Linked DNA regions of Homo sapiens: region 1 is linked to region 2. Evidence: fine-mapped expression QTL. A gene starts in region 2. The other region holds a variant in brackets. All regions are shown on one strand. Distances are from middle to middle.

Region 1 (2,911 bases), 25 kb after region 2:
AGTTGGCCAACAGGAATCAGGTGGTCGGTTAGGCAATCATGATGGATGAGGGGTCCACCATCGCATTGTCTAGATGCAGTGATCTGGTAAGTTTCAGTTCCTTGAACTATCTGGGAGGCCTGAATGGTTTCATGAGAAACGAACTCAGATAAAATGAATATAAGTTTCAAGCTTTAAGACTAGGAGAGTCAATTTCTATATTTATTCAAAAAGACTGTTAACATCATTTCTGTGGGGAAATCCAGCCAGTTTAAAAAATGATCAGCAAAGATAGGGAATATGGTAGAAATGTAAAGGAAATAGAGGTTAAAGTGATATATAGAGCATAGGGAATGATGGCATGATATGTAAAAGGCATGTCTAAATTTTGAATAAACATAATGAAGGGCAGAGAATGAAGGGATTAAATGGAAAATTTGTCAGGCCATGAGGGAGAATGCCAAAAGATTTGGTCCGAAGCCAACCATATGAAAGCCAATGTTAGAAGGTGTCTGTAGGGGAAGTAGTAGAATAGAAATGTGGATAAGTGGGGTAATCATAGCAACATTAACTTTTATTGCCAGGCCGAGTGGATTTTGTGTTAGTAATTGAGGTAGCATGGTAGAGGGTAGGTTTCTTTTGTATTTTTCTAGCCTATGGGTAGTCTTATCTTTCACCCAGTGACAGCAATGATGCAATAATAAGGAACAGCCAGAGTTTCATATATAAATAAATATATAAATTATATATATATATCTTTTGAGATGGAATCTTGCTCTTTCACCCAGGCTAGAGTGCAATGGTGTGATCTCAGCTCACTGCAACCTCCACCTCCTGGGTTCAAGCAATTCTCCCACCCCAGCCTCCCTAGTAGCTGGGATTACAGGCGCCCACCACCATGCCCAGCTAATTTTTTGTATTTTTAGTAGAGATGGGGCTTCACCATGTTGGCCAGGTTGGTCTCGAACTCCAGACCTCAGGTGATCCACCCGCCTCAGCCTCCTAAAGTGCTGGGATTACAGGCGTGAACCACCACCTTACATTCTGGCTGGGGAAAACAAAATAAAAACACAAGGAAACTAAAAAATGAGGTAGCTGCAAATTATGAGAGAAAACACACACTGCCTATATCCAATCAGGGAAATAAGCAGACACACTTGTTTTAAACAAATATCTTGGGAGAGGCAAGTCAGAATGTCAGATTTCGACTTCAACGTATCTGTGACACTCTTAGATGGTCATCCTGTTTTTAAAATGCATCCCTTAGGGAGGTGGGGGGGTCAGCCCCCCGCCCGGCCAGCCGCCCCGTCCGGGAGATGAGGGGCGCCTCTGCCCAGCCGCCCCTACTGGGAAGTGAGGAGCCCCTCTGCCCGGCCAGCCGCCCCATCCGGGAGGGAGGTGGGGGGGTCAGCCCCCCGCCCGGCCAGCCGCCCCGTCCGGGAGGGAGGTGGGGGGGTCAGCCCCCCGCCCGGCCAGCCGCCCCGTCCGGGAGGTGAGGGGCGCCTCTGCCTGGCCGCCCCTACTGGGAAGTGAGGAGCCCCTCTGCCCGGCCACCACCCCGTCTGGGAGGTGTACC[T/C]AACAGCTCATTGAGAACGGGCCATGATGACAATGGCGGTTTTGTGGAATAGAAAGGGGGGAAAGGTGGGGAAAAGATTGAGAAATCGGATGGTTGCGGTGTCTGTGTAGAAAGAGGTAGACATGGGAGACTTTTCATTTTGCTCTGTACTAAGAAAAATTCTTATCCTGTTGATCTGTGACCTTACCCCCAACCCTGTGCTCTCTGAAACATGTGCTGTGTCCACTCAGGGTTAAATGGATTAAGGGCGGTGCAAGATGTGCTTTGTTGAACAGATGCTTGAAGGCAGCATGCTCGTTAAGAGTCATCACCACTCCCTAATCTCAAGTACCCAGGGACACAAACACTGCAGAAGGCCGCAGGGTCCTCTGCCTAGGAAAACCAGAGACCTTTGTTCACTTGTTTATCTGCTGACCTTCCCTCCACTATTGTCCTATGACCCTGCCAAATCCCCCTCTGCGAGAAACACCCAAGAATGAACAATAAAAAAAAATAAAAATAAAAATAAAATGCATCCCTTTTCTTCATTCTGTATCATCAAACTAATTTTCCCAAAGCACCAATCTCACATTTAGAGAGAAACTTATTCTCAGTGTCCAACCTTTAGCCTCACTGTGGGCACATTCTCCTGTGCTTCTAAAGAAAGAGGGAAAGATGAGAAACAATGATCATTTGGAAAGTTTGCAACAGGCCAATGAACCATGTAGACCTCTCCAGAAGCAGATGTGCTTCTGAATAGGATAAGATGTGTTACTGAATGGGTGCTACTGCTGGTGCCCACATGTGTTGTCTGTCACCTTCAGTCACATTTGGCATGTAGTACCTACACAGATGTCAGATCTGAATTTTTCCCATTTCATTGTCCCTAATACACTGATCCCTTGTCATGTAACTAATAGCATCTTCTATAATTCTACAATTATGTCTTGGTTGGCATCACAAAAGGGGCCTAAGGGACCACCTTATTCCTTTTAAACCAAGACTCATGCCACCTTTACATATTTCTTAGAAAGGAGGATATATAATGGAGGAAGACAAGGCTCACCGATGAGTTCAAAACAAGGGGACGAAGAAAGTGAGGAATTAAGGTTTGCTCCTAAGTATTTTGCTTGAGTCAAGAGACTTTTTTTTTGAAAGATATATTTAACATTTTACATTATGTATATAATAGTCAAAAAGTCTTTTATCTCAGTCAATGAATATTTTATTTCAGTGAAAGGGTCTTATATATCGGGGACATCTGGCCTGGGATCTAGGAAACATGGAAGGAAATTAATCTGTAATAAAGTGTTAGTAATTAAGAGGTCAAGCTCTATGACTCAGTCTCCAAAGTCAACTTTCCTCAAGTCCTAATAA
Region 2 (2,911 bases):
TTGCTTTTATTTTGCAATTCTCCTAAGGAGTCATATAGTTCTGTAAAGCTTTTCACTCTTCACAGATTTGATATTTTAAGTAACACGGTATGTTTCTGAAATGGAGTTTGCATTTTGGGGCATTTTCTATAGATGTATCATGAAGGACACGTGAAAACTCTGTTATAAATATAAACACTCCACTGCATGCAGGAATTTCCTTCTCATTCTTCCAATGGAATTGTCTTAATTTAGGTTGGATCAGAATTAGAATTTACGTTATGATGACTATGTAAATAATATTTATAGGTCAGTCAGGTAGTATCCTATGATTACTTTTCTTGCACAACTTTTTTTTTTCTTTTTTCTTTTTTTCCTCATGAAGGGGTTGCCAAGGCTGTGTAGTGCAGTGGCTATTGATAGGTGCGATCATAGCTCACTGCAGCCTGGAACTCCTGGGCTCAAGCGATCTTCCTGCCTTGGTCTCCCCAGTAGCTGGGACTACACGTGTGCGCCATCGCGCCCGGGCTTGCACAACTTTTCATTCTCCCAGAGTCGCCTTATTTATTCCTTCCAGAATTTTAGGCACTTGGTTCTCCGAAAGCCCCGACGTTAAGATTGACTCCACCTACAGCAGAGGGAAGGCCCTTCTTCTCTCTTAAGGAAAATTCCCGCCTCCCGCATTGGATTCCTTTTCCGGTTGGCTGGTGGCTGCTCTCTTTACCTGCACTGGGCGGTGACCGTGTCCCTCAAATGTAAATGAGGTTCCAGGGGTCGCTGTTTTTTCACTTTCCGTTGACGGGGTGAACAATATCCTCGTACCTCGATTGCCTCTCCACACCCTTTTGGTCCTCAAAAATCTTCCTCTTGTCCTCCACATGTAGCTAGATGCGTTTTCGCGGTATATGACTCAGGGTGCGATTGCTCTTTTTCCTCTGTGGAGAAAGCGTTTTCACTTGTACGGACACCTAAGTGTTAAGATGGCCGCGCCCATTGTGTCATTCCCGTCATTCTTTGTGCAAAGCGGATGACTTTTCTCCCCAGCCCGCTAAGGTGCACGTAGCCATACCATGTTTGTCTTGGCTAAGCTCGACCCTCTGAAAATAAATGAAACTTGGGCGCAGGATTTAGGTGCCAAAATATGGAGTTCTTCACCGTCCCGCGCTATCCCTGAATACTTGGGCAGAAAAGGTCCACTTTACCTTCCGTACGTGCAGGATTCAAAGATGGCTGCCTCCAGTATCCGTGACGAGAGGACGCGAACTTACTACCTCCCAGTCGTCCGTGCTCCGTACACCTGCAACTTCAGACCTTCCTCGGCCGCCGTAGGCCGGCTTGGAGGCTGGGGGAGGGCCCAGAAGTGGAATAATTCAGGAAAGTGCAGGTTCTGGGAAGTCTCGGTGGGTTCCCCGCAAAATCAGGTCTGTGTGTGGGTCTGTCTGTCAGGATGAGGGGAGGAGGGTGTCTGTGGGCGTCCGTTTAGTGCGGAGCCGTGGAGTTTGTGGGGGAAGCGGGAGCAAGTGGGAGTCGGGGTATTGGGGTTGGGGCGTCTCCGGAGTCAGCCCTGAGGGATCCCAGTGGTCGGTGGTCAGAGTCTGTCCAGAGCAACACTTGGAAGTCCGTGATCAGGGTTTGGTGCCTTTGCGGGTCACTCTGTAGGGCTCGGTGATTGAGGACTGGAGTGAGGAGTGGTTTTTGTCAAGGAAAACTGTGTCTGCTTCGGATTCGGGGTTTTATTTTTTATTTTTGAGACAGGGTCTCGCTCTGTCACACAGGCTTGAGTGCAGTGGCGCAATCGTGGCTCACTGCAGCCTCCATCTCCCGGGGCTCAGGTGATTTTCCCACCTCAGCTTTCCCGAGTAGCTGGGACTACAGGTGAGCGCCACCACGCTATCTATCTATCTATCTATCTATCTAATCTGTCTAATCTAATCTATCTATCTATCTATCTATCTATCTAATTTATCTATCTAATCTATCTGTTTATTGCAGAGACGGGGGTCTCACTATGTTGCCCAGGCTGGTCTCCAACTCCTGGCCTCAAACGATCCTCTCACCTTGGCCTCCCAAAGTGCTGGGATTACGGGCGTGAGCCTTCGCTCCAGGCTGTAATCAGGATTTAATATGCGACTCAGTGAGGAGGAGCCCGGGTTCATGTGAACCTAGGTGTGTGGTCCAGGTTTTTGGATTAATCTAAGGGGGTGTGACCATGTTAGGGAGGTCTAGATGTGACAGTCGTGGAGAAGCTTGTGAAGGCTGAAGCCTTGGCAGCCAGGGCATCCTGATTGGTGTGTGTGTTCAGGTCCAACGGTACATTCCCTCTCAGTCCCTTTTAAGTTTCTCTGCAAGGACTGGTTTACAAATCTCATTTGACTTCTCACATCTCTCCTTTCTCTCATCCTGGTAAATAGGAAAGCTTTGGGGAAGATCAAAGATTAATCAAATCTAAAATGGTAAGGTGGCCTGGCGCGGTGGCTCACGCCTATATTCCCAGCATTTGGGAGGCCAAAGTGGGCGAATTGCTCGAGCCTAGAAGTTGGAGATCAGCCTGAACAACATAGCCTGTCTCTCCAAAAAATACAAATATTAACTGGGTGTGGTAACACACGCCTGTAGTCTCAGCTACTCGGGAGGCTGAGGTGGGACGATCACGTGACCCCGGGAGTTCTAGGCTGCAGTGAACTATGATTGAGCACTGCACTCCAGCCTGGGCAACAGAGTGAGACCCTGCCTCAAAAAAAAAAAAAAAAGAAAAGAAAAGGAGAAAAGAAAAAGGAAAAAACAAAACGAAGAAAATGATAAGGTTTCTATTAAAGATTTTCGTTCTTCTTCCTCAGGTTTACTGTGTGAATGTGTGTATACACACACGTAAATATTTTCTTTCAGGTTCTGACACAAGTAAAACATCTCTCTTATCCCAAAATGTGTTCCC

Evidence for each region. PIP is the estimated chance that this variant, and not a neighbour inherited with it, causes the effect. A credible set is the group of variants that fine-mapping cannot tell apart.
Region 1: its variant is the best candidate, but not a certain one, in a credible set for the expression of ZNF613 in whole blood (INTERVAL, PIP 0.55).

The regions. Positions count from the first base shown.
Region 1 is chr19:51,951,596-51,954,506 of GRCh38, forward strand. All of the region lies in intron 1 of ZNF350-AS1 (ZNF350 antisense RNA 1), which reads left to right. Among named protein-coding and RNA genes, the nearest start is that of ZNF350-AS1, 3.9 kb to the left of the region's middle. The variant T/C (reference allele first, on the strand shown) is at 1,556.
Region 2 is chr19:51,926,141-51,929,051 of GRCh38, forward strand. It overlaps ZNF613 (zinc finger protein 613), which reads left to right and starts at 1,332. Exons shown (of 6, transcript NM_001031721.4): 1 at 1,332-1,400. RefSeq lists enhancers at 352-1,115, 971-1,270.